Linked DNA regions of Homo sapiens: region 1 is linked to region 2. Evidence: fine-mapped expression QTL. A gene starts in region 2. The other region holds a variant in brackets. All regions are shown on one strand. Distances are from middle to middle. Region 1 overlaps PTPRG (protein tyrosine phosphatase receptor type G). Region 2 holds the start of PTPRG (protein tyrosine phosphatase receptor type G).

The links. PIP is the estimated chance that this variant, and not a neighbour inherited with it, causes the effect.
Region 1: its variant is the best candidate, but not a certain one, in a credible set for the expression of PTPRG in tibial nerve (GTEx, PIP 0.58).

Annotation. Positions count from the first base shown.
Region 1 is chr3:61,646,487-61,661,105 of GRCh38, reverse strand. All of the region lies in intron 1 of PTPRG (protein tyrosine phosphatase receptor type G), which reads right to left. It overlaps LOC124906245 (a long non-coding RNA gene), which reads right to left and starts at 1,605. Exons shown (of 2, transcript XR_007095942.1): 1 at 1-1,605. The variant C/A (reference allele first, on the strand shown) is at 10,624.
Region 2 is chr3:61,549,599-61,564,664 of GRCh38, reverse strand. It overlaps PTPRG (protein tyrosine phosphatase receptor type G), which reads right to left and starts at 3,094. Exons shown (of 30, transcript NM_002841.4): 1 at 2,293-3,094. The coding sequence starts at 2,377. RefSeq lists an enhancer at 4,317-4,992.

The sequences.
Region 1 (14,619 bases), 97 kb before region 2:
CAAGACTCTTGTCTCTTAAAGAAAAAAAAAAAATTTTTAATTAGGGGGGGAAAAAGTGTCCAAACCTGTTTAATGTATTAAATTGTGTAAGGTTTTGTTTTTTGAGATGGAGTCTCACTCTATGGCCCAGGCTGGAGTGCAAGTGGCACAATCCGGGCTCACTGCAACCTCCGCCTCCCAGGTTCAAGCGATTCTCATGCCTCAGCCTCCTGAGTAGCTGGGATTACAAGGTGTGCACCACCACGCCCAGCTAATTTTTCTGTTTTTAGTAGAGATGGGGTTTCAACATGTTGGCCAGGCTGGTCTCGAACTCCCGACCTCAGGTATCAGCCCACCTTAGTCTCCCAAAGTGCTGGGATTACAGGCGTGAGCCAACGCATCCAGTCAGGTTTTTTTAATATCCAATCATCATTATCATTGTCAACCCGTAGACGCCGTGTTATACTGAACCACGTGCTGTTCTAGAAGCTTCCTCTGAAATGGTCTTTTAATCCTGATACCAACACCATGAGGTACTGCCTTTAACAAATGAGAAACTGAGGCTCAGGGAAGTTAAATGCATATATCACTCGCTAACTATGTGAACAGAGGCGAGAGGGGGCTCAAACCCAGACAGTCCAGCCTCAGTATCCAAACTCTGGACCACTATTCTATTTTCTTGTTCAGAGAGGGCTTTGGGAGACTTTGAGTTCAGGTTTACCTCCTGGTCAAAAAAAGAAGTTTAACCACACTGTGATACTTCTGTACTGCCTTTAGAAGTCACAGCAAGCTGCCACCTGCATTAAAACTCCCAAAACAATTCTGTCAGGTAGGTAAACATTCATCTCCTTAGTGTTTCCAGAATTTCATTCTTTGTGCTTTTTTCATTTTTGTTTGTTTTTTGAGACGGAGTCTCACTGTGTCGCCAGGCTGGAGTGCAGTGGCATGATCTGACCTCACTACAACCTCTACCTCCCAGGTTCAAGCGATTCTCCTGCCTCAGCCTCCTGAGTAGCTGGGACTACAGGCACAAACCACCAGGCCCAGCTAATTTTTGTATTTTTAGTAGAGACAGGGTTTCACCATGTTGGCCAGGATGGTCTCTATCTCCTGACCTCGTGATCCGCCTGCCCTGGCCTCCCAAAGTGCTGAGATTACAGGTGTGAGCCACCGCGCCCGGCCAGAATTTCATTCTTTCTCATACTATGTTCAAAGTTTCCACCATAGCCACATTCCCCCTGAAAAACTCTAGTTTTCCTTATTTAAAAAAAACCATTCATTTCTTCTAATTAAATTTATTTTTAAAGGAAATTGTGTATCACATCCAGGAATTTAAAAACTAGTATTATTTGGTTTAGGTAAATCGGTTATGAAAAGTAATAATCAATGTATCATGACACTCTCCCACTGCACCCAGACATGACTTCAGAATCCTTCTCCATACAGTGGTCTAAGCAGTCTCTATCCATTAATCATCAATGACACTCAAAATGCAATCTACTGGGTATACCACATGGAATCTAATACACTCTTCAGAGAAGGAACATGACACTCAAAGGTTACCAAGAAAGTGTTTATCTTCCTAAGATTTTTTGGGAAATGAACACTCAAAATCAGGATCCAGACCCCTACCTTCTCTTCTGACTCTCCTTCCTGGTCACCCCACTGTCTGGACAAACCTGCAAAGGCTTTTTCACTTTTAAGAAGTGTACACAGCCTCATCAAACTATCTTCTTCTCCAGTGAAGCAGAATGCAGTCAGTCAAGAGCTCCCGAAAATTGAACAAGAAAATCCTCAACTGAGCAGCACTGTTTGGACTTGCACCATCAGTGCCTTTGTCGATGAAAGAAAACATACATTGTATATGCCTATATGAAGCCCTGAGAACATCTATTCAGGCTGACGGCTATGGAGCTACAAGAATAAAACCATCAGCATCCTGTCTGATGTTCATCAGGCCATGGCAAAAGGCCCTTAAAAGCAGGGATTACCAAAGGCTTTCAGGCTAGAGGGGCCCCAAGGTGTGTCTGCTAGGTCTTGGGCACTGTCCAAAAAGGGGAACAGGGGCAGGGGCAGGGGCAGGGGCAGGAGAAAACAGCCGAACTCATGCTCCTAGGTAGAAGGCTATCAGCAAAAATTTCCAAAGACTTCCTCCAAAGCAAGCCATGAGAACCAGTGCTACATTCCTGGTCTGAACACAGATTCAGAAGTGAAGTTCCAAGGGCATGGTGGCCAGAATCTATAATGTGTCAAATTTTTACAGGCGTATAACTATGTTTCTACTTGAAGATGGTCTTTTTCTGGCTTTGGCCAAAAAATACGGACCTGGGAGCACTAGATCATGGCCATGAGTGTCTAGCAAACTCATCCTTTCATTCTATAAATACTTCACCTAGTAGGTGCTGGGTGCTGAGACAGAGCAGTGAACAAGACCAATCAAATCCTTAACTCGCAAAGAACTTGTATCCTAGCTGGGAAAATAAACAACAAAACAAGCATACACTTATCTCGGGAATAAATGACAGAAAGAAAACAAGACTTGAAAATAAAAGTGTGATGTGGATGAGATGGGGAGAATAAAACACCAGGGAGCTAAGTTAGACATTAGATCCCTATTTTCAAGATAGAAAAAGGAGCTCAAATTGTTATCTAACTTTCCCAAGGTCACAAAAAATAGATGAGGGCAGAGCTGGTACCTGAACCTGTAGCTATCTGGCTATGGGACCAACCAGGCTCTCCACTGTGACTCCACGTTGCCTCCTCTAACCTTGTACCTGAGATCCTGAGACCTCACCTAGCCACTGTCCTAGGACACCGTCTCATCAGGGACATCTGAATTCATAATGTCCAGCTGCAGTGTGACCAGTCCTGAATCCACAGGCACCGGGTGCCTGCTTGCATCAGGCCAGAACATTCCTATTCTGGCAACTTTCGCAGCCCCTGAGCTTGAAGACAACCAAACCGTCAAATATGTGCCAGAACAATGACCTGAACAGTACATGCAGATTCAATTCCAAATCTAGAAATCAGAGTTAGGTCCTTCCCATTTCATCCCATGGCCTGGAGCTCTTATACTTCCCAAACATTTTCATGGAGTGTGTCTGTCCATAGGGTGGGTGCCCAGTGTGTAGGGAAGCACCATAACCACTGTCCACATGCACACTCATGTCACCCACAGCAGCACAACCAGGGTCACACTGCCACAGCTGCTTAGCAGCCCTCTGTTTAACAAGCAAAGTACAAAGCATCTTCCCCGCTGATGCCTGCTATCGATCAACTTAAGGACAAAGAGAACCAGCTTCCGCAGCACTCTCAGCAGCCATGGGAACAGCTCCCACTTTTTAAGCGTGGGAACTCTAAATGCTCAGTTGTAAATAACTGCTTTAAAGCCTACTGATCCTTTCATTTATCATCAATTGGTTTCATTTTGAGCAAAGAAAGTTGAAGGCATGAGGGACGGCACATACAGGAGACACTAGGGCACAATGAATCCCAAGAAAACAAATCAAAGGCATCATCAATAATTCAGCTACAAGCATGTGCCAGAGTTGAGAACACCTCCTGGGTTCAACTGATCCTCCCTCCTCAGCCTCCTGAGTAGTGGGACTACAGGAGCTCACCATCATGCCCAGCTTATTTTTTTATTTTATTTTGTGTAGAGACGGGGGCTCTTGCTATGTTGCCCAAGCTAGTACCAAACTCCTGGCCTCAAAATGGAGCACCTTGCCTTTGGGAGAACATCAAAAGCAGGATGGTCTCTCTGGTCCTCTCTCATCCCTTCTCCCCCTGAAACTGGTTATAAAACTTAACTGACCTTCCCCTGAAAGTAGGTCATAGTCTCACCCTCATTCTAGAGAGGTCCTCCACATGCCCAGAGGAAAGGAACGTCCTTATTTCTGTGAGACACCAAGAAGAAATTGAACAAAACAAGCCTTGCTGGCTCCCCTCCACCCCCACAGTTTATTACCGGTAGACAATAATACCCCTTTGTCCTCCAATCATACTTTGGCACCACTGTCCATAAAAATACAGTTTTCCCCGTTGCTTTGGGTCTTCATTTCTGAAAACTCCTGTGACACGTAAAACTGATATTCAATAAATATGCTTGCTTTTCTCTTGTTAATCTGTTATGGGGGCCTCAGCCATGAACTTTTTGATGTGTAAGGGAAAGGAATCTTCTCTCCCCTACACAGGTTCTAGAATGTCAGCTCTGTGCAGGCAGGGATTTGTTCACCACTCTATCCTGGGTGCCTGAAACAAAGGGGCCCGGCATATGGCTGGAAGAAAATATCTGGAGAATAAGTAAAAACATTTTTTATAGTAGCCCCAAATCGAAAACAACTAAAGGATGTGAGTCCAGAAAGCAAAGAACAAGAAGCTAAGGAAAATATCTTCAATCTACAAGAATGTTGGACATGACCCAGGCAACCTATCTCCTAAAAAGTAAAATTGACATTCCAGAATCCCAACAGACCCATCAAATGCAATCAGGTAAATGAACTGTTAGAATGCCGAACCAAGAATACGCTTGGAGAAGAAATTCCTAAAAGTTAATTTTAAAAATAATGTTGCCAAAGGGGAATGATTTGCAGTGGTACCAAGTAATTGGCACTGGTAACTCAGACTGTGTCTCTTCTTTGCTCTGGAAATCCACTCATCACAAGAGTATTCCCTTAAAATGCATTCCTGGTTAGGGCTTATTTTATGAAACGGTCAGTTTTTAACTATTCATATGTAAATTGGGGGCTATGGAGGCATTTCCCTACTAAATTTGCTAATCCCTGAGACAGAGACCACTTCTGTGTCACCTCACCTTCTGCATCAAATGAGGGATGCTCACACACTCAGAAGGAAAGAAGCCCTTTCTTGTTTTTCTTATTTATTTATTTTTTTAAGAGACAGGGTCAGGCTCTGTTGCCCAGTCTGGAATACAGTGGTACAATCATAGCTAACTGCAGCTTCAAACTCCTGGGTTCAACTGATCCTCCCTCCTCAGCCTCCTGAGAAGTGGGACTACAGGAGCTCACCACTATGCCCAGCTTATTTTTTCATTTTATTTTCTTTAGAGATGGTCGGGGGGGGGGGGGTCTTGCTATGTTGCCCACGTTGGTATCAAACTCAGGGCCTGAAGCAATCCTCCCACCTCAGCTTCCCACAAAGGGCTAGGATTACAGGTATAAGCCACTGAGTCTGACTCTTTCATGAAGTAAATTACATCTACACTTAAGAGTTAAACAGGCCAGACACAGTTTCACAATTGGTTGGCCAAGACAGGAGAATGGCTTGAGACCAGGAGTTCAAGACCAGTCTAGGCAACATTGGGAGATCCTATATCTACAAAAAAAATTTAAAAATTAGCCAGGCATGATGGCATATGCCTGTTGTCCTGGCTACAGGGAAGGCTGAGGCAGGAGGATCACTTGAGCCCAGGAGTGAGCCAGGAGTGAGCTGTGGTGAGCCGTGATCCTGCCACCACACTCCAAGCTGGGTGACAAAGTAAGACCCTGTTTCTAAAAAAATACAAAGTAAAAGAGCCAAAATATGCAACCACCCATTAGTACAAGTAACTTGAAGATACATATCTTCAAGAAAAAGTTACAACTGAGTATAACTGCCACTCCTTCTTGACTGAGATGTGTCAATTATAATACTCATTTAGTCCATATTTCTGAACATCTACTATGTGCCAGGCAGTATCCTGGGACCATATGATAAAAGAATAAGTGAAACTGATAACAATCCCTGAAGATCTTAATCTACAGGATTAATGAATATCATGAACAGGTCAACAAATAAGTGAAAAACGTAACTTGCAAATGTGGTTAAATGCTGGGAAGACAATAATCAGAGATGAAATAAGGACAAAGAAGAGAGAGGAAATCATACCTATTTCCTGTCATTGAGAGGCAGCACTGTGCCCTTGTACAACTCTGGACAATCTGGCAGGGGACTCGGCGACTCAACCATTCCACCTGCAGGATGACTCACCAGGCAACCAGGACTCCTGCCGCACACCTCAATAAGCTGATAAAGCGCAGGTGGCCGGGTGCGGTGGCTCACGCCTGTAATCCCAGCACTTTGGGAAGCCGAGGTGGGTGGATCACCTGAGGTCAGGAGTTTGAGACCAGCCTGGCCAACATGGTGAAACCCCGTCTCTACTAAAAAAAAAATACAAAAAGTAGCTGGGCATGGTGGTGGGCACCTAAAATCCTAGCTACTCAGGAGGCTGAGGCACAAGAATCTCTTGAACCCGGGAGGCAGAGGTTGCAGTGAGCCGAGATTGCACCACTGCACTCCAGCCTGGGCGACAGAGTGAGACTTTGTCTCAAAAAAAAAAAAAAAAAGAAAAAGCACAGGTAGCCTTCCTTTGTCAGCAGCATAGAAGGTCAACCCATTAAGCCCTGGGCTGCATACAAGAAAGCAGGATAGAATTATATTATAGGCCAGGCATGGTGGCTCACGCCTGTAATCCCAGCACTTTGGGAGGCTGAGGCGGGCGGACTGCCTGAGCTCAGGAGTTCAAGACCAGCCTGGACAACATGACGAAACCTCATCTCTACTAAAAATACAAAAAACTAGCTGAGCATGGTGGCACATGCCTCTAGTCACATCTACTCAGGAGGCTGAGGTATGAGAATTGCTTGAGCCTGGGAGGCGGAGGCTGCAGTCAGCTGAGACTGCACCACTGCACTCTGGCCTGGGGGACAGAGTGAGACCCTGTCTCAAAAAAAGAAAGAAAGAAAAAAGAATGATATCATAAATATATATTCACCTAACAACAGAGCCTCAAAGCATATGAAGCAAAAACTAACAAAATTCCACCTATATCTCCTAAATGTGCTATGAAGACTTGAGAACGCACATCAATTATCTAGCATATGGGTGCAGGGGGTGGCGGGCAGGTGTTGGTTAAAGCACAAGAGCAGCCCCATTCTCTTGAATGACTCCCACATCCCAGACTCCACGGTAAATGCTATTCACACACGATTCATTTCTCACCACAACACTATAAGGCACAAGAGTAAACTGAGGTCCGAAGAGATTAGGTAATTTGTCAAAGTCAAAGTGCCCTGGAAGGGCATGTATCTCATGTTCCCTCTATGCCTCTCAGATGTGGCACTGGGCTTCCCCTGGAGCCATCCATGAAAAACAGGACAAAAAAGACACCTAACAGATGATGTACCTTAATTAGCCTTACATGTTCCCTTACAGTTCCCCGCGCCCCCCACCGCTCCCCGCTTAACAACCTGCACACATGCTGCTTCTAGTAGATTCTGATTCATGCTGATTTCACTAGATAACTGGGAACAGTGTGGGCCAAGGTGAATTCTAATCTCACAGGCGAGCAGATTCTAGAGCCTCCCTTTCATAGAGGCTGGGCCCTTATACAGGAAGAGGTTACCCTGATGAGCAAAGAAAGTTGAAAGGGCAGGGGACAACACATCTGAGAAAATGGCAGGGCACGACGAATCCTAACAAAACAAAGACATATGCAATGATTTAGCTACACATACGCAGCTGGACTGTAAGATCCATGAGGACAGGGATCAGCCTTGTTCACTGTTCTATCCAAGGTACCTGAAGCAGGGGTGCCTGGCATACAGTCTCATGTACATAAATACGTGAGGACTAAAAGCATTATTTAGAACAAAAAAAAAAATGAAAACAAATAAAATGTCCAACATTAAAATGACAGAAAAGTAGACACTGGCCCATTTATGGAGGATCACTATTGCAGCTGCTAAAAATGACAAGGAACAGGAGACAAATATGCCACCCATTATGAACCATGCTGGAAAAAAAAAGGGGGATAATTTAAAGAAATGGGGAAATGTTCACAATATAAAATGAAAAAGTAGATTGCATAACATCAGTCACAGACAGGATGTCTTGACTAACCCTATATGTACAATACGTCTTTCCTATGTGTAATATGTATAGAAAAAAAAAACTATCAGGATGTAGTGACATTAAGTCACATTCATCTCTACATTGTGAGATGATTTTTTAAATTGTCTCTTCTTTTGGCTTATAAGTACTTTTAAAAAAAATTACTTTTCCCTTATCTTATATGTACTTATAAAATGTTCTGCAATGAATACAAATCTGTTGTTTGGCATAATTTCTACCCCCATGATATCTGGTGGTTGTAGTGTAAATCTCCACTCCATAGCATTTTGATACAAAGATTCTGCAGCTGCCAAACAGGCTTCTGACCCTTCACCCAGTGACAAATAGCTGGCAGTTACATTAGAAGAATGGTTCTCTATTAGGGGAGAATCCCCCACTTGCCAGAAGGCATTTGACTACCCCTGGATGTTCCAACTTAGGAGGATGCTAGTGGCATCCAGTGAGTGGAGGCCAGGAATACTACTACACATCCTACAATGCACAGAAGAGCTCCAGCAACACAGAACTATCGGGGCCCAAAAATACCACTAGTGCTAAGGTTGAGAATCCCTGTTTAAAATGAAGAGCCTGAGGATGTATCTTAAATATAAATAAGAAAAGAAACATTAACAACAATATTAAAATATTGTAACTAGAGGAACAAGGTTCTAGAAGGGCAGAGAAGGGGAACATTTGCTCCACTGAATATCCCTTAACCCTAGCCCAGTCCATGACCCAAAGAAAGAGCTCAACAAGTGTCCTGGCCATCAGGGAAAATAGATTGCACCGTAGAGGAAATTCTAATTTCAGAGTCAGGCAGAGGTAAACTTGAAGATCAGCCCTGTCAATGGCTAACACACTCCGCATCTGCAGAATGAGGAATAGAGCACTATTTATTTGATTCTTCATTTTATTTTTTATTTACTTACTTTGAGACGGAGTCTCGCTCTGTCTCCCAGGTTGGAGTGCAGTGGCGATCTGGGCTCGGTGCAACCTCCGCCTCCCAGGTTCAAGCAATTCTCTGCCTCAGCCTCTCAAGTAGCTGGGATTACAGGCATCCACCACCATACCCTGCTAATTTCTGTATTTTTAGTAGAGATGGGGTTTTACCATCTTGGCCAGGCTGGTCTTGAACTCCTGATCTCGTGACCCACCTGCCTCAGCCTCCCAAAATGCTGGGATTACAGGCATAAGCTACTGCGCCTGGCCTACTTTTATATATATATTGAGATGAAGTCTCGCTGTGTAGCCCAGGCTGGAGTGCAGTGGTGTGATCTCTACTCACTACAACCTCAGCCTCCCAGGTTCAAGTGATTCTCCTGCCTCAGCCTCCCGAATAACTGGGACTACAGGTGTGTGTCACCATGCCCGGCTAAGTTTTGTATTTTTAGTAGAGACGGGGTTTCGCCAGGTTGGCCAGGCTGGTCTTAAATTCCTGACCTCAAGTGATCCACCTACCTCGGCCTCCCAAAGTGCTGGGATTCCAGGCGTGAGCCACCACACCTGGCTATTTGATTCTTACATGACTTACATGGATCAATATATATAAAGCTTCTGACACTCTCCAAGGTACACCAGAGGTGCAGTATTCACTGGTGGCCTACAAAGTAACACCCAGAAAACTTCCAACATGGTGCACGGAAATTGCTTAGCTTCAAGCTCAACACCAATGAATCCAGGTCAATTCCCACATGGACCCATTATCATCTTCTAAAGAAATCTGTGTCTCATGAACTAAGTCTAGCCCTAAGGCTTCATCAGGCCCGTTCAGGATAAACAACCACTAGTCATGAGCAACTGTGTGAGCATATAAATCAATGGCTGCTATCATCTATCACTAGTATTTTCTTGTGAAACTTAAAAAAAAAAAAGATTATTAACAATGGGACAAAATGTCAACGACAACTTTTTTCTTTAAGTAGAGATCCAAAGGGATAAGATTACCTCTGCTCAGACTGAAATCAATACACAAGAACTTAATCAACTAAACCCTACCAAGATACCAGATGGTCTCTTAAGTATTTTGGGATTTTTATCTTACAGCCAACACACCCATCTGGTAGTATATAGAAATTATGTTTTTCCTTTAAAAAAAAAAAAAAGAGAAAGAGTGTCCAAATACATCGTGTAATTGAGGTTGATGAACAGGGTTCTAGAAGTGTAGGCAATGAGGAAAAAAATATAAACATACACACAGATAAATGTGTAATTTATCGGAGCCATTAGAGTCAGCAGAGTCATATAAACTTTTACTAGACAACTCCACAGCAAAAAATATAGGTTCAAATTGCTGAATCATTGTTCACATGTAAATAGGATTCCTAAAACTTTTATTGGTAGTAAAAATTAGTTTACATCATAAAGTAAACAAGAAAAGCAAGCTATAAAACCAAACAGTGGTAAAAGACCCTCAAATGACACATTTCACCAAAAAACTCATTTTGCAAATCGAGAGTTAAACAATTAAGTGTTTGAAAATGCTTACATTTGAAAATGAAAACCATCACATTAATAAATTTTAAGATAAAAGTTGACTGTGCGTTTGATGAGGAAGTGTGTATTTGATTAAATCTTCACACTAGTGTTAGGAAACATTTATTCCATGGAAAAGAGCACTCTGGTTAGAAACACATGGGCTCAAACACAAAACTTCTTTCTTACTCAGTTATCATCCTGAGGTCTACGGTCTTCCCTGTGAAAACCGCAGGCACATCCAATGGTTGGATAACTATTGCATCCTAATAAAATCAGGTG[C/A]CAAGTTTCCCTTCTCCTGGCCGGGACTCAATCTCTTATGAGCTCTTTTTTGGCTGCTTCTCAACAGTTTTGTGCGGAACTCGTCACTGTGTTCTTCGAACATGAGTCTCATTCCACAAAAATCTTGTACTACACATTCCCACTGGTGTTCCTAGGTGAGTGGCAATGGTAGATTCTGTAATACCTCGCTGGCATTCAACATTTTTAGGATCAAGGTACATGGTGCCCCCACCCTTGGCTTCCTTGATTTGGTTTTGTAACCCTTATGTATTAAAAGATAATTTCTCAGCAGCCGTGTACAGCTCTGGTTTTCACACATTCAATATGTATCACTGCATTTGTACAGGGGAAAAAAAGTACCAGGCTTTTTAATCCCTGGTGCTTATGGGTTTTATTTTTCCTTCTGGGAAGAAAAGGTGGAAGAATTAAGGACAAGGAGAAATCGAGAGAAACCAGAGACTCCCCTTATTAGGTTTAGCAGTAAAACTCAGTGCCCTGTTTATTAGGACCTTCAGGCTACCATTTGTAAAAGATGTTCTTGATGGTCTGCTTTCCACCAGCAGATTATAGCAAGTCTGTTGAAATAATGAGCTCAGGGACATAAGGCAGGATTCAAACCCCAAACCAAGGCTTTACCAATTTCAAGCCCTGTCATCAGCCACATGATCTTGAGCAAGTAACTAAAACTTTAAGTGTCAGTCTGTGCATCTATACGACAACCTATTTCTAAGAGGAGCCAATGTAATATAAGCAAAGTGCCTTGCATTATACTCAACACAATAAATCCAAGTTGTCATATTATGCTGATTTAGCCCTGCTGTGATTTGAAGCCTGCATGTCTCCTCCAAAACGTAGGTGTTGTCAATGTGATGGTATTAAGAATCGGGATCTTTACGAGGCAATTAGGCCATGATGGCTCCTCCCTTGTTAATGAGATTAAGAACCATATAAAAGAGTCTTCAGATAGTGTTTGGTTCACTTGTTTTTCCACTTCTGCATGAGAGGTCACAGCATATCTTCCTTAGAGGATGCATCAATAAGGTGCCACCTTGGAAGCAGAGAAAAACCCTCACCAGACAGCTGAACCTGCTGGCACCTAAATCTTGGACTTCCCAGCCTCCAGAACTGTGAGAAATAAATTTATATTGTTTATAAATTACCAAAGCCAGGCACAGGGGCTCATGCCTGTAATCCTAGTACTTTAGCAGGCTGAGGTGGGAGGATCACTTGAGCCCAGGAGTTCAGGACCAGCCTAGGCAATACTGTAAGACCTCATCTCTTAAAAGAAAATAGAAAAAGGAAGGAAGGAGGGAGGGAAAGAAGGGAGGGAGGGAAGTGAAAAGGGAAAAGGGAGGGAGGGAGGGAGGAAGTAAAATAAATTAACCAGTCTCCGGCATACTCGTGTAACAATGAAAAACAAACTTAGACAAACCCAAAGTTAACACTAGGTTTTTTAACCTTGGTAATAAACTCACATATGACTGTTCTTTGACACTGCTATACTATATGAAACGTCTATTTGCTTCTTCACTTTTGGATTTCCTGAGACAGCTCAAGGAAAAGGCATTATTTTTTCATGTAAATAAATAATTGCTTCAACAAAGATCAGAATCTTTAAAGTGGAGATTGCCTCACCAGCAGCCCCCAACCCTCATTACTTTTCTTATTTGGAGTTTGAAATATACACGGAGCACAGAAAACATTCTCTTGGGAAACATTCAAGCAACATGCCATTATTCTTCCAATACAAGGTAATAGAACCTAATAGAAAAATGTCTGCCCTCTCTCTCTGACTGTATTACAGATGGCAGCCAAATGAGTGTGTGTTCTGCAGCAGAAAGCCTGGGAAGTGCAGGCATTAGACGTTCCCTTGGTGCATCAGCCTGGGGTCACCCCACTCAAACACCCTGCATTTAGCTGCCAACAAAAAATGAAATGCCTTTGTCTCAGGACAGAGGAACTGAGGTATTTCAAGATGTGTAATTCCAAAAGAAAACCTCTCTTTTGCTGCCCAGTTTTCATTTCCCCTCGGGTGAAAATGTGTAGCCTGGTAGGAGCAAGCTAGGTGTCTTCCACCTGGATCCTTGGTGCCTATGTGTGAAACACAGGAAGGCATTCAAGGCAGGAAAGAATGGGGTCCTGGAGGGATGCCAGGGAATCCGCAGAAGTTAGGTGCTGCTAAGTCCAACTAAGATGCAGTCATGAGACCTTATGAATGAAACAAGGATTGCCTGGGTAACGAATGGACAACTATGTTAACGAATCTCCTAATATGTTATTTTAATCTCAGAGTGTCTTCATCACCATGGGGGTCCACAACACCCTGCAGTAGTCTCCTTTACTAATTCCACTGTCAGGATATTCTCAGGTGACAATGCATAGGACTGGTTTAATCAAACATGAAGCCTCCACTTATCATGAAGTTGCAGCCTGTCTTGGGCTTCAGGCATATCAAAAGCAAGACAGAAAAATAAAACCCAAGAGGACAGAGGATTCACGGATGGGTACAAGGGAGTGTCAGTAGATAGACAAGCCATAACGGGCCTCACAGGCCGCAATCACAATCAGGACACTTCGTAAGGGAACATCTCAAGGCATCAAGGGCACCAAACATTCAGTGGTTTCAGAAAAGCAGCACCAGCTCCAAGGTCAGAGTTTGAATTGCTAACTCTTTTTTTTTTTTTTTTTTTTGAGACGGAGTCTCACTCTGTCACCCAGGCTGGAGTGCAGTGGTGTGATCTCAGCTCACTGCAAGCTCCGCCTCCCAGGTTCACACCATTCTTCTGCCTCAGCCTCCCAAGTAGCTGGGACTACAGGTGCCTGCCACCACGCCCGGCTAATTTTTTTGTATTTTTTAGTGGAGACGGGGTTTCACTGTGTTAGCCAGGATGGTCTCGATCTCCTGACTTCGTGATCCGCCCGCCTCGGCCTCCCAAAGTGCTGGGATTACAGGCGTGAGCCACTGTGCCCGGCCAATTGATAACTTTTAATGAGCTGGATGAACCTGAACAATTACAGGATCATCTAGCTCATTAATCGCACATACCATGTGGCTCAGTTTCCTTCTTTAGAGAAACAATGGTATTGACCCTCCTTTGGGGAGTTGTTATGAGGCTTAAATTAGATAGTATGTGTATGGTGCTTAGTATAATATCTGGCATGTAAGAAAACTGCAATTCCTCTTTTGTTTAAAAATTAATCCAGATAATGGTGTGAAAGACGGTAAAATGAAAGACAGGAAGAGCTGTTCAAACACTGCCAATTCCAGTTATCACGTGCTTAGTAAAGGAGAATAGTCTGGCAGTTTCCCATAAAACTAAATATGTACTTACTATACGACCCAGCAATGGCACCCTTGAGCATTTATCTCAGAGAAATAAAAACTTAGGTTCACTCAAAAACTATGTACACAAATGTTCATAAGCAGCTTTATTTGTAATAGCCCCAAACTAGGAAAAGCCCAGATGTTCTTCAACAGATGAACGGATAAACAAACTGCCACATCCCTACCATGGAATACTGCTCAGGAATAAAAAGGAACAAACAACTTGGATGGGTCTGGGGAGCTACACTGAGTAAAGCAAGCCAGCACCAAAAGGTTATGTACCGTATGATTTCCTTTATATAATGACATTCTCGAAATAACAATGGGTTAGTAATTGCTAGAGGTTAGGGATGTGGGGGTGGCTATCAAGGGGTAGCATATGAGATCTTTGCAGTGATGGAACTGTCCTGTATCTAGATTGTGATGCTGGTCACACAAATCTACACATATGAAAAAAATGCATAAAACTATACATACACATACACACCACAAACACCACTGAGTAAATACAAATAAGTGCATGTTAAACTGGTGAAATCTGAATAAAGTCTGTGAATTGATAATGTCAGTTTCTTGGTTTTGATATTACACTATAAGTATATAGAATGCATCATTGGGGGAGGCTGGGGAAAGGGTACAAAGAACTCCTCTAGGGGAATAATGTTTTGAAT
Region 2 (15,066 bases):
AGCTCTGATATTTTAACTTTACCTTGCTCCAAAGCCTGCTGCTCCCTCTCGGGCTGCACTTTTCCAAACCAAACCGCCCTCTTCCCTGCGCCTCCCACCACTGTCCTTTCCCTTTCCCACACCCCTCGGCTCCCGGACCAGGAAAGGGGCTATTTACCTCGCAGCGTGGGCGCGAAAAGAAAATGAGAAGACGAAAATGGTCCAAGCCCCACGAAGGCTGGTTCCCTGGCAGTCCCATTTTGGATCTCAAGCTTCCTCACACACCAGGGAAAAGAAAACCACGGTCAGCCCACTGACTGCATCCCCGAGCGCAAGAAGGACAGAAGTGGAATTGGAAATTCCTCTAATTTGCAAGGCAGCCCTCCACGACCTCCCACTGCACCCATTAAAGAGTGGCCCTCACAAAGCTCAACCCCTGTGTGCACCTGAGCCCGCTCAGTCGTCAAGTCCGTGGTAAAGCAGGGGAGACTAGAAAGGAGAGATGATTAACCCAAATACTGAGCAGTGATCTTTTAGTGAATGAAGGCAGCTGTTTCTAAGGGGAGATGTCCCCATGGCCTACACTACCGTAGAGGCCGTAGAGGCAGGACTCCAGTGGGCAAACCCCAGGCCCCAGTGTCCTACCGTAGAGGCAGGACTCCAGTGGGCAAACCCCAGGGTGAGTGTGGACGCACGTCCTAGCTCGGCCTCCGAGCTGCGTTTCTGGGCTGGAGCTCCGTGCCGCTCCGCGGGCAGGAGGATGCGCAGAGAGAAAAGGGGGTGCAGAATACCAGACGGTGTTTTCCCTTTCTGCCCCTCGAGGCCATCCCCGATTCTGCAAAGGGGGCATTCGCTGCCAGTCCCCCGAGGGGATCCCCAAGGGCGACGAGGGCTCCCGCGCGCCCTGCTCCGGGTCGCACGACGGGACTAAGGGACCCGCTGCACCAAAAACGGGCGCTCCAGCCGCCCGAGGACAGGCGTCTGTAACCAGGCAGAGCGGAGACCTCGGGGCACATTCCTCTTTTTCTTGATTCAGATAACCTCCACCTCCGGGTATGCAGGAGTTGATGGATGAGAGGGCAGAAAAACGGGGAATTCTCTGTCCTTAGGGGAGCGAGGGATGAAAAGCAAATCACCCCTTCTTCCAGCCCTTCCCCGGGCTAGGGCAGGACTTGGCCTCCACCCCAAGGGACAGCTACGAGGGAGCTCGGGGCTGCTGCCCGGGGGACCTGCAAGAGAGGAGAGGGAGGCAGCTGGCCTCTGCCCTCCCCAGGGGAGAGAGGAGGGGGAACTGCCAGCTGAGAGCTGGAAGTGGAGGGTCGCCGAGCCGCACACCGTTACGTGCGGTGATTTATTCTTATCAACGGCCAGTATTGTTCCTGTCTTAACCTGGCCAGAAAGGAGCGAGACTGGGTCTGCCAGCCGCGAACAGCCTGCAAAAGGGCAAAGATGAAGGTAGGCAGGGCGCGCGAGACAGGAAAAAAATCAGCCCCGGCGCGAACAGCAACCCGGCCGCCGAAACCGCCCCGGCCGCCGAAACCGCCCCCGCCCCCTCCCCGCGTCCAGACCCAGGCAATCCAATCGAGCAGAGCAGCGGAGGGAAAGGGCCACGGGCCGGGGCTAGGGGAGACACGGATCTCTCCGAAACCGCCTGCGCCCTGCCGTCTCACTGCGCCCAAGGAGGCTGCCTCACGCCGGCACCGAAGTGCTGCCCGCGCCCCAGCCCCCAGAGAGAGGGAGGACGCCCCCGACCCAGAACGCAGGCTGCTCCCCACACATCCTCAGTCCTCCGCAGCCAGCCTCCGACTTCCATTCCCCGAAACCTAGCCCTCCCAAAGGGATGGAGAACAGCAAAGCAAACCCCCACCTTCTGAGTTCCTTCAATACCCGCCAGAGCGAGGGGGCTCATCCCGGGCCCCCCAAACCCACAGAAGCATCCTTTCCATGGCCTCAGTCTCCCCAACCGCCCCACAACTCGAGTTCTCCCGATCGGCGACGAGTCAGCAAAGCAAGTCCCCCTTTCTCCCGATTCCAGCTCCCCAGGACCCCCAAAAGGGAGCGGGAGCAGACCCCCGCGTCCCCCAGCCCCCTCCCCGGCCAGCCCCTGCCTCCACCTTCCTCGACCACTAGCCTGCCTCCCTAAACATCATCCAAGCCAGCGGAGCAATCCTTTTCTCCTATCCGGGCGCCGGGCCACCCTCCACCCTCTCCAGGGTCTCCCGGACGGGCGCCGGAGCTCCGCGCCCAGGCGACAACTCCGCATCCCCAACGCGCGCCGGCCGGGGCCGCATCCCCTCGGCGGCCGGCACTCACCGGGGAAGCACACGACATAATGGAGCACGGAACTGGTGATTTTCAGGAACAAAATCCACCAACACGGTTCCAGTAACCTCCGCATGTCCGAAAACGCACATCGAAAAGAGGAAAGCAGGGAGGTAAACTTGTTGAATAAGTTCTTGCCTCCGTGCGAGCCTCCGCTAAGCCGGGGCGCTTCCCCGGCTCGCCCGCTCCACGGGCCCCCCGCGCTCGGCGGCCCGAGTCCCCTTGGAATCCGGGAAGCCGCCGAGCGCCCCCCGGAAAATCTCAAAAAGTGACCGGGAACGCAGAGCCACGCTGGGGACGATCCTCTCGGCGGAGAAAGGCTGCTTTCCGTTTAAAAAGGAGAGAGCCGATCGGGCAGGGCGCGGAGTCGGCGGCCGGCGGCGATGCCCCGGGCCTGGGGCAGGCAGGGACCGCGGGCGGCGGCGGCGAGCAGCCGAGGATCCCCAACTTGAGTCGGCAGCGCAGCACAGCCCGAGAGCCGGCGGGCGGCGGCGGGGCTGAGCGCGGCGCGGCGTCTCCGGGCTTCAGGCAGGCAGCTCCTTCCAGGGCCCCGGGAAGGAAGGAGGCATGTTTGCGAGAGGGGAAGGGGAGGGGAGAGGCAGGGGGAGCGGAGAGCCCCCCAAAATAGAAACGGCCGGAGGAAACGGAGGAAAACACAAAGGATCTCAGAGGGGCGCTGGGGCGAGGGCGCCTTCAGTCCATGCTCCTGAAAGTTGTGGCTCCGGCGCAGGCTGGGAAGGAACGAAGAGCGCGGGGCTGGAAACTGGCCATGCCTCCATACAGGAAGTAACATGTGAGCATGGATCCTGGCAGAGACTTTAAAGCCGGCGAGCGAAGGAGCGAGCGAACAGGGGGCGCGCGGTGGCGGCGGGGGCGCGCAGCCCGGGCCAGCTGGCGGCGGGCGCGCGCTCTCCGCGTTCTTAAAGCAGCCGCGCTTGGCTCCCGCCTTGCGCTGGGTCCCTCGGCTCTGCTCTCTCCGCGCGGCCTCTACTGGGACAGTTTGGGGACTGGGGGCGATTGTAGCCCGTGCGCGGAGAGAGGAGGGAGGCTGCCTTCTGGGGCCGGCTTGTTTTTTGCTGGATTCCCGTTGTTCGAGCTCTTAAAAGACGCCGCACGGTGCTCGGGTTTGGCGAGATCCTCCGCGCAGCTCGCGGATCCCGGACTTGAGGGGCCCCTCGCCCTGGCGAGGGGAAAGGGGGAGGGCGGACAGCTGCCTTTTTAAAGCGATGGGGTTTTCTGTTCGGCTTCACTGCCCTGGCATTTGCAGCGGTGAGGCTCACCGTCTGCGGCTCCTGTTCGCGCCTCCAACACAGCGCATTCCCCCGCCGGGAAACAAAGCCGAGCGGCCTTTGCACTCCGGCTACATTGAGATTTAATTTTTTTTTTTTTTCTTTTTCGGGCTTTCATTGGCCCAGTCCAAGGCTGGGGAAAGTGGGGGAGGGGAGGAATGTCGATCCCAGGATTGCGAAATCTAGCCCTTCCGAGCCCCGCATCCCCTTTCCCGGCGCCACGATGGATCGGTGGCGGAGTTTCCCCAACTCGCAGCTTCTCTGGAGAAGGTTCCCGCACCCCGGTTTGGCCGCGGGGAGGGCGCAGGAAGTGCGCCTCTTACACCCTGCAGGGTGAAAGCAGCGCCGCGGGGCCGGACTGATTTCCTGGCAGCTACCCGGGGAGCGGCTGCTTCTTTAGCAATCGGGGAGAGGCGTCCGGGGGAAATGGGAGGACTAGGCTTATCTGTAATGAGTTTTGTCCCTTGGCTCTCGGTAAGAAGATCTTTATCGCTTAGACTTCTAAGCGCCCTATTTTACATTCTTAACGCTGGGGCTAAAAGTGGGGGAGGCGGGCTTTCGAGTAAATGTGTAACTGAGCCAAGGTAATTAGCCGTTTGACATTTTTTGCCTAATTTTTCTGCCTGTGTTTCAAAGCGATCTTGACGTGGGATTGTTTTGTTTTGTTTTGAGACGGAGTCTCGCTCCGTCGCCCAGGCTGGAGTACAGTGGCTCGATTTCGGCTCACTACAACCTTCGCCTCCCGGGTTCGGGCGATTCTCCTGCCTCAGCCTCCCGAGTAGCTGGGACTACAGGCGCCCGCCACCACGCCCGGCTGATTATTTTTTTGGTGGTTTTTTTTGTTTGTTTTTTGTTTTATTTTGGTTTTTTTTGTAGAGGCGGGGTTTCACCGTTTTGGCAAGGCTGGTCTCGAACTCCTGACCTTGTGATCCGCCTGCCTCAGCCTCCCAAAGTGCTGAGATTACAGGCGTGAGCCACCGCGCATGGTTCTTGTGTTTTAAACGTGTCCCTGCTGTTTCATCCCAACACGGCAGGGTCCTCCACCCACCCAAACATCCCAACCGGATGCTAGGTTTTCAAATAAAGTACAGATGGTCGGAGATCCTCCCGTTCGATGTGATTAAGGAAGCATTTTCACACCCACACTTCCAAAAGAAAAACCTTTGAAAAGTTACGTATGGGATTACAAACTAATAAAAGCCAGGAAGTTCCTGGGGAGGGCCCTAGCTCTATCTTTAGCAGAACGGGGGTGAACACCCTCCCCCAGGGTGGGGAATGAGGCGAGTTTGTTTGCTTTGGAATGTGGTCCTTCCTGGTTTTATTGGAATCCTGACTTCTTTATAAAGGATTGCGAGGGCCATTTTTCTTGGAAGTGTTGTAATGAGGGATATTCGTTCCTCAAGTTAGATTACCCCAGCATCCCTGACTACCTTCTTAATGTCGAGTGATAAAATAGGAAAAACTCGTCAAATACTTGTGTCAGCGTCCTCAGGTGAGGTTTCCTCCTCTGTGAAATGGACAGTAAAAGCTGTCCTTTGTGGAATGCTTACTGTCTACCAGGCATTGTGCTGAATTCATGCCATAAACTGCTTGCTCATTCAACAAATGTATTGAGCACCTACTGTTTGAGGGACACACTGGGAACACAGCCTCGAACAAAAAGGGCAAGCCCCCATGCCTTATGGGAGCATACCTTCCTAAGTCCATGCTCCGTTCTCTCATGGAGTTCTTAAAATACTGCCAGCTGTGAGAATTATTTTCCCCATTTAATAGACAAGGAAACATGCTCAGAAGAGTACAATGATGGATCCTCAGCTAGTGGGCAGCAGAGCTGAGATTCTCAACCCAGGCCTGTTTGCCTCCACAGCTGTGATTCAAGGCAACAGAATAATGGCTTGAGAAGGCACCAAAATGTGGAATGTAAAAAAAGAGCTTCAGAGTCGGGGAAAACCTCATATGGGTTTGCAGAGTGAATTACCACTACCTTAGTAGTGTAGGAGGCCCCATGCTAAAACTTCACATCCAATTCGGTATGGACTGGTGACTGTCCTAGGACCCCAGGCTGAAGGTTACCCCCAAACTACCCTTGGAAGCACAATCCAGGCCCCACCAGTTCCTACAAAAGATAAAATTTTGCAAACATACATCACAGATGCCTTTTCATTTATTCTGCAACCAATTACAGAGCGATTCATATATAATAGACACTTTCAAGTGCTAGTCACACAATAATGACCTAGCAGTAGCCCTGCCATGCTCCTACCTGGTAATTACAATCCTAACCCAGGTGATATGGGAGCTCTATGATAACAGTGAGCAAGTTGGTGTGAAAAGCCCTGGGAGTGCCAAAGGAGGGAGAGCCTAGCTACCCTGATGGAAGATAAAAAGGCTACAAAGAGAAGATGCTGACGTTAGTAACAAATGACCCTCAAATTTAGCAGCTTAAAAAAATATATACTCATTGCCTGTCACTTTTAGAGGTGAGAAGCTGGGGCACAGTATGGCTGGGTCCTCTGCTCAAGGGCTCATCAGGCTGAAATCAAGGGATGGGCCAGGCTTTCTCATCTGGAGCTTGGGCTCCTCCTTCAAGCACATTCAGGTTATTGACAGAATTCAGATCCTTGTGGTTGTAGGACTGAGATTACTATTTTCTTGATGGCTGTTGGCCAAGGGCTGCTTTCAACTAGTGGTCTAAGCCACACGGCGCCCTCACAACATGGCAGCTTACTCCTTGAAAGTCAGCAGGAGAATCCTCCTACAGGAGTCTAGAGAGTGACCGTTTCATCACTTTTGTCATATAATGTAACCTAGTCAAGGGAGTGGCTATCCTGTCATGTTCACAGGTCCCACCCACTTTCAAGAAGAAGGAATTATATGCCAAGGGTTGGGGATCTTGGGGACCATGTTAGAATCCTGCCTACCATAGTGCTGGTGACCTATTTTGAATATAGACTGGAGGTTAAAGGCAGTAGCTTTCAAGCCAGTCTAGTTAGATTCTGATGCTACTCATATATGCATGACCATAGGCAACTTAATCACTTTATGCCTTGGCTTCCTCATTTGTAAAGTAGGAATACTATAATAACCATACATCTTCCTAAATAGAGAAGAATAAGAGGAATTAATATACATAAACTATTCAGATCAGTGCTGGGAACCTAATAAGCATTTAATAAGTATAAGCTATTACTGTTATCTGTTTACCCAGCCTATGTAATAAGAAGTGAACATCTGTTATTTTCTACCTGCTCAGCGTCCATTTCTTTTCTTCTAGTAATAGTGTCCCAGTTTTCCTTTGTGCCAGTCTCCCCAGATGGTCTTGGTGAGCCTAACCCTTTCTTCCCCTATCCCTACCTCCACCTCTCCACTTCACTGGGTTAGGTGGACACGTGCCCTAGTCCTGACCAAATGGAGCATTTCATCCCTCTGACCAGACTGGTCTAGGGATGGGCACATATTTCTAGTAGGTCCAATGAAAGTCAAACTTCCTTTTAGGTTTGCCAGGCCAGATCAACTTAAACCTCATACTGCAAGGAGGGCCCTCACTTGGGGCAAGCCCATCTGAGAATCTGACACAAGAAGAAAAAAAGAATACAGAGGTGGGGGCCAACAAATCCCTGATACCTTCATTTGAGTCCTTGAATCAAGTCATACCTGAAGCCAAACCAACTCCTTGACTTGTCAGTTACTTGAGCTAATAATTTCCTCTTATTCCTATCCCTTACGTTTTTATTCATTAAAACTGAAAACCTGAAACCTGGAACCAGTGGTGACAGATGAGTAAAATATCTACATTTTACAAAAAAGGAAGCAGGGGCTGTTAGAATTAAGTGATTTAGTTGAGGCAATTCAGACTGTAAACAACAGAAGACTCAAGCTTTTAACATTCTTCTGTATCAATCATTTATTGTTGTGTAACAAATCACTTCAAAACGTAGTAGCTTAAAACAGTAGGACAGAAGTTTGGGGTGGGCTCAGCTGAGTAGTTCTTCTGTTGGTTCTGTGTGAGGTCACTCATGCATCTATAGCACCAGAATCCAGATGCTCAGCTGGGGCTTCGTAGTCTAAGATTCCCTGACTCAAATGCCTGGCAATTCGTGCTGGCTGTTGGTTGGAGCATCTCAGACCTCACCCACTAATCTCTATAGCAGCCTGTCTCAGACTTATTTACAAAAAGATCTCAGGTAGGAGAGTGAGAGTGAAAATTGCAAGGCACCTGGAGACCTAGACTTAGTAGTTGTGTGAAATTACTTCCATTTCATTTGACTGGTCAAAGCAAGACAAGGCCAGGGCAGATTCAAGAGGAGGTGGAAATGGACTCCAGTTCTTGATGGGAGAAGCAGCAAAGTCAGGAAGCAAAAGGACATGAATAGAAAGGTAGGAGGAAATTTGTGGCCTTCTATACAAACAATCTACTTCATCTACTGTTAAAAGTGAGTAGTGCCTGTTATGGGTTGAATTATTGTGAAGTAATGTTGAAAGAAGGTATCTAACCCTTAGAAGCTCAGGATGTGAACTTATTTGGACATATGGTCATTCCAGAGGTAATGTAGTTAAAATGAGGTCCTTAGTGTGGGTCCTAATCGAATATGACTGGTGTCTTCATAGAAAAGGGAAGTTTGGGCACAGACACAGACAAGCACACAGGAAAGATGAGGGGAAGACACAGGAAGAAGACAGCCATGTGATTGGAGTGATGCATCTACAAGCCAAGGAACACCAAGTATTGCCAGCAAACACCAAAAGCTAGGAAGAGGCAAAAACTTCCCTTACAGATTTCAGAGGGAGCATAACCCTGATGACACCTTCATTTTAGATTTCTAGCCACCAGAATTGTGAGACATTGAATTCCTGTTGTTTTAAGCCATTTAGTTGGATGTACTTAGTTACATCAGCCCTAGGAAATAAATACAAAGCCCATTTACCTTTTACCCTTCGTTTGTTTTCATGTATAGACAAAACACATTTGTGACTGGGCTTTCAACTTCTCAAGTGAATGTTTGTACAACAACAACAAAACCCATTGTAATCATCCTAACTTTAAATTTTGAGGCAATGTTTATTTTAAAGAACTTAAGACTTAGCAAAGCCTATTTATTCTGAAAATATATATAACCATAGAAAATCTCTTAAGTCCCCTAATAATAACTTTTGTCATTACAAAAAGCCCTATATTCAGTGGCTGAAAGAAAATGAACATGCAGTGGCATTTTTTTTTTTTTTGAAACAGAGTCTTGCTCTGTTGCCCAGGCTGGAGTACAGTGGCACAATCTCAGTTCAATGCAACCTCCACCTCCTGGATTCAAGCAGTTCTCCTGCCTTAGCCTCCTGAGTAGCTGGGACTACAGGCGTGCACCACCACGCCCAGCTAATTTTTTGTATTTTTAGTAGAGATGGGGTTTCGCCATGATGGCTAGGCTGGTCTCAAACTCCTGGCCTCAAGTGATCTGCCTGCCTCCGCCTCCCAAAGTGCTGGGATTACAGGCGTGAGCCACTGCACCCGGCCATATAGTGGTGTTTTAATACACTATTTAACAAGTAGGATTAAGTTTGGGTGTGGTGGCTTATGCCTGTCATCCCAACATTTTGGGAGGCCAAGATGGGGGGATCACTTGAGCCCAGGAGTTCAAGACCAGCCTGAGCAACATAGTGAGACCCCAGTCTCTTAAAAAAAAAATTAGCCAAGCTTAGTGGTGTGTGGCTATACTCCCAGCTACTCAGGAGTCTGAGGTGAGAGGATCTCTTGAGCCTGGGAAATTGAGGCTACAGTGAGCTGTAATTGCAGCACTGCACTGCAGGCTGGGTGACAGAGCTAGACGCTGTCTAAAAAAAAAGGATTAAATAGTCATAGCAAATATGACTGGTAAGGCTCTTTTACATTAAAGATAGATTAAAGAAAACTACATGATCCTATCAATTAAAGCAGAAAAGGTATGTGACAAAATTCAACATTCATTCATGATAAAAACTCTCGGTTAACTAGGAAGAGAGGAGGTTCCTTAACATAATAAAGGACATCTATTAAAAAAAAACCCATAGCTAAACTTATACAAGTCTGAATTCTTTGCTTCCAAAACTGGAAACAAGGCAAGGATATTCATTTTCACCACTCTTTTTTTTTTTTTTCCTCACTCAGGGTAAATAATACATTCTCAGCACTCTTATTCAACATTATTCTGGAAATTCTAGCCAGTACAATAAGACAACAAAACAAACAAAAAAAACCGTATATATTAGAAAGCAAGAAATAAAACTGCCCCTATACAGATGACATGATTATCTGCATAGTTCCCAGTGAGTTTAGCAAGGTTGTAGGATGCAAGGTCAACCTACAACAATTATTTTTGTGTCTATATATGAGCAGCAAAAGATTGAAAACTAAAATTCAAAAAAACTCATTTACGATAAACTCCCCAAAATGAAATACTTTAGTATAAACCTAGCAACATATGTGTAGGATTAGTATGTAGAAAACTATAAGCTGCTCATGAAATAAGTCAAATAAAAACTAATTAAATGAGAAATATACTATATTCATGGGTTGGATGACATTATAGTCAAATATACATTTTCAATAAATCTATGCATTTGTGCATTTCCACTTTTTGTAGATACAGACAAGGTGATAATAAATTTATATAGAAAAGCAAAGGAACTAGACTAGCAAAGCAATTATGAAAAAGAAGTTAGAAGCCTCACATTACTTGACTGTAAGACTTACTATAAAGGTTCATTAATCAAGCCAATATGGTATTGGTGGAGTTATAGATACATGAAATAATGAAATAAAATAGAGAACCCACAAATAGGCCCACATAATATTGCCAATTGATTTTTACAAAGATGCAAAGGCAATTTCATATAGTGAGGATAGTTTTTTTCAACAAAACATATTAGAACAATTGGACATCCATATGCAAAAAAAAAAAAATCCTCAGCCTATACCTCACATCTTATGGCAAAAATTTTTTTTTTTTTTTTGAGACGGAGTCTTGCTCTGTCACCCAGGCTGGAGTGCAGTGGCGTGATCTTGGCTCACTGGAAGCGCTGCCTCCCGGGTTCATGCCATTCTGCTGCCTCAGCCTCCCGAGTAGGTGGGACTACAGGCGCCCACCACCACGCCCGGCTAATTTTTTTGTATTTTTAGTAGAGACGGGGTTTCACTGTGTTATCCAGGATGGTCTCAATCTCCAGACCTCGTGATCCGCCCGTCTCGGCCTCCCAAAGTGCTGGGATTACAGGCGTGAGCCACCGCGCCCGGCCAGCAAAATTAACTAAAATAGAATATAAGTTTAAATGTAAAACATAAAACTACAAAAAATTTAGAAGTCGTAGGAGAAAATCTTTATGTCATTGAGTTAGCAAAGAGTTCTCCAATAAGACACCAAAAGCACAATCCATAAAAGAAAAAAATGATAAATATAACTTCATCAAAATAGGATGGGTATGGGGGCTCACACCTGTAATCCCAGAACTTTGGGAGGCAGAAGCAGGTGGATCACTTGAGTTCAGAAGTTCGAGACCAGCCTGACCAACATGGTGAAACCCCGCCATCTCTACTAAAAATACAAAATTTAGTTGGGCATGGTGGCATGCACTTGTAATCTCAGCTACTCAAGAGGTTAAGGCACAAGAATCACTTGAACCTGGGAGGCAGAGGTTGCAGTGAGCTGAGATGGTGTGACTGCACTCCAGCCTGGGTGACAGACTAAGACTTTGTCTCAAAAAGAGAGAAAAAAACAAAAAAAAAACTCTGAAAGAGCACAAATTGACAAACAAATGTCACAATTTAAGGAACTAGACGAAAAAAGAACAAACCAAACCCAAAGCCAGCAGAAAAGAAATAACAAAGATCAGAGCAGAACTAAATGAAATTGAAACAAACAAACAAAAACACAAAAGATAATAAAACAAAAAGCTGGTTCTTTGAAAAGATAAACAAAATTGATAGACCATTAGCAACATTAACTTAAAAAACAAGAGAGAAGATCCAAACAAGCTCAATTAGGAATGAAACTGGAGGCAAGGCATGGTGGCTCAGGCCTGTAATCCCAGCAGTTTGGGAGGCCGAGGTGGGTGGGCCACCTGAGGTCAGGAGTTCAAGCCTGGCCAACATGGTGAAACCCCGTCTCTATTAAACATACAAAAATTAGCTGGACGTGGTGGCTCATGGCTGTAATCCCAGCTACTTGGCAGGCTGAGACAGGAGAATCGCTTGAACCTGGGAGGCGGAGGTGGCAGTGAGCTGAGATCGCGCCATTGCACTCTAGCCTGGGCAACAAGAGCGAAACTCCATCTTAAATAAATAAGTAAATAAATGAAACTGGAAATATTGCCAACAATACCACAGAAATACAAAAGATCATTCAAGGCTACTAAGTCCACCTTTACATGCACAAACTAGAAAATCTAGAGAAGAAGTATAAATTCCTGGTAACATACAACCCTCCTAGATTAAATCAGGAAGAAATAGAAATTTTGAGCAGAGCAATAACAAACAATGAAATTGAATCGGTAATAAACAAATTGCCAACAAAAAAAGTCCAAGAACAGATGGATTCACAGCTGAATTCCATCAGATATTCAAAGAAGAATTAGTGCCAATCATACTGAAACTATTTCAAAAGGTAGAGAAAGAGGGAATTCTCCCTAAATCATTCTATGGAGCCACTCATCACCCTAATACCAAGATGAGGAAAGGACATTAAAAAAAAAAAAGAAAAGAAAACCCATATCCCTGATGAACATAGATGCAAAAATCCTCAAGAAAATTCTAGCTAACTGAATCCAACAGCAAATCCGAAAAATAATACATTATGATTGAGCAGGTTTCATCCCAGAGATGCAGGGGTTGTTTAATATACGCAAATCAACAAATGTGATATATCACATAAACAGAATTAAAAACAAAAACCATATGATCATCTCAATAGACAACAGGAAAAGCATTTGATAAAATCCAGCATCCCTTTATGATAAAAACCCTCAACAAAATAGACATAAAAGGGACTTACCTCAAAGTAATAAAAGCCATATTTGACAAACCCATAGGCAACATACTGAATGGGGAAAAGTTGAAAGCATTCCCCCTGAGAACTGGGACAAGACAAGGATGTCGACTTTCACCACTTCTATTCAACATAGTACTGGAAGTCTTAGCCAGAGCAATCAGGCAAAAGAAAGAAAGAAAGGGAATCCAAATTGGAAAAGAGGAAGTCAAACTGTCACTGTTCACTGATGATATGATCATATACGTAGAAAACTCTAAGGACTCATCCAAAAGGTTCCTAAAGTCAAGCCTCAGATTACAAAATCGATGCACACAAATCAGTAGCACTGCTACACACCAACAATGACCAAGTTGAGAATCAAATTAAGAACTCAATCCTTTTTACAACAGCTGCAAAAAAGTAAAAATAAAATACCTAGGAATATATTTAACCAAGGAGGTGAAAGTTCTCTACAAGGGAAACTACAAAACACTGCTGAAAGAAATCACAGATGACACAAACAAATGGAAATAGAGTCCATGCTCATGGATGGGAAGAATCAATATTGTGAAAATGACCATACTGCTCAAAGCAGTCTACAGATTCAATGCAATTCCCATCAAAATACCATCATCATTTTTCACAGAACTAGAAAAAAATCCTAAAATTAATACGAAATCAAAAAAGAGCCCACATAGCCAAAGCAATACTAAGCAAAAAGAACAAATCTGGAGGTATTACATTACTGGACTTCAAATTATGCTACAAGGCTATAGTTACCAAAACAGCATGGTACTGGTATAAAAATAGGCACTTACACTAATGGAACAGAATAGGGAATGCAGAAATAAAGCCAAATACTTACAGCCAACTGATCTTCCACAAAGCATACAAAAACATAAATTGGTGAAAGGACACCCTATTCAATAAATGGTACTATGAAAACTGGCAAGCCACGTGTAAAAGAATGAAACTGGATCACCATCTCTCACCTTATACAAAAATCAACTTAAGATGGATTAAAGACTTGAATCTAAGACCTGAAACCATAAAAATTCTAGAATATAACATTGGAGAAACTCTTCTGGACATTGACTTAGGCAAAGACTTTATGACTAAGAACCCAAAAAACAGGCCAGGCATGGTGGCTCACGCCTGTAATCCTAACACTTTGGGAGGCCGAGGCAGGTGGAATACGAGGTCAGGAGTTCAAGACCAGCCTAGCCAACATGGTGAAACCCCGTCTCTACTAAAAGTACAAAAATTAGCTGGGCATGGTGACGCACGTCTGTAATCCCAGCTACTCAGGAGGCTGAGGCAGGAGAATCGCTTGAACCCGGAAGGCAGAGGTTGCAGTGAGCCAAGATCGCACCATTGCATTCCAGCCTGGGTGACAAAGCAAGACTCCATCTCAAACAAAACAAAACAAAAAAACAAACAAATGCAATGCAACCAAAAATAAATGAATGAGACCTAATTAAACTAACGAAAAAGCTTCTGTACAACAAAAGAAAGAATCAGCAGAGTAAACAGACAACCCATAGAGTGGAAGAAAATATTTGCAAACTATGCTTCTGACAAAGGACTAGTGTCCAGAATCTACAAGGAACCTAAACAAATCAGCAAGAAAAAAACAAATAATCCCATGAAAAAGTGGGCAAAGGACAGGAAAAGATATTTCTCAGAAGATATACAAACAGCCAAGAAACATGTGAAAAAATGCTTAACTAATCATCAGGGTAAAACCACAATGAGATACCACCTTACTCTTGCAAGAATGGCCATAATTGCTAATTTTTTTTAAATTTTATTATTATTATTTTTGGAGTCTCACTCTGTCGCCCAGGCTGGAGTGCAGTGCAGTGGCGCCATCTCAGCTCACTGCAACCTCTGCCCCCCAGGTTCAAGCAATTCTCCTATCTCAGCCTCCCGAGTAGCTGGGACTACAGGCACACGCCCCCATGTCCGGATAATTTTTTGTATTTTTAGTAGAGATGGGGTTTCACCATGTTGGCCAGGCTGGTCTCAAACTCCTGAGCTCAGGCAACCCGCCCACCTTGGCCTCCCAAAGTGCTAGGATTACAGGCGTGAGACACAGCGCCCGGCCAAGAATAGCCATAATTAAAGTCAAAAAACCATAAATGGTGGCATGGATATGGTGAAAAAGGAACACATTTACACGGCTGGTGGGAATGTAAATTAGTACAACCACTATGGAAAACAGTACAGAGATTCCTTTAAAAACTAAAGGTAGGCCGGGCGTGGTGGCTCACACCTGTAATCCCAGCACTTTGGGAGGCCGAGGCGGGCAGATCACGAAGTCAGGAGATCGAGACCATCCTGGCTAACATGGTGAAACCCCATCTCTACTAAAAATACAAAAAATTAGCCGGGTGTGGTGGCAGGTGCCCGTAGTCCCAGCTACTCGAGAGGCTGAGGCAGGAGAATGGCATGAACCCAGGAGGTGGAGCTAGCAGTGAGCCGAG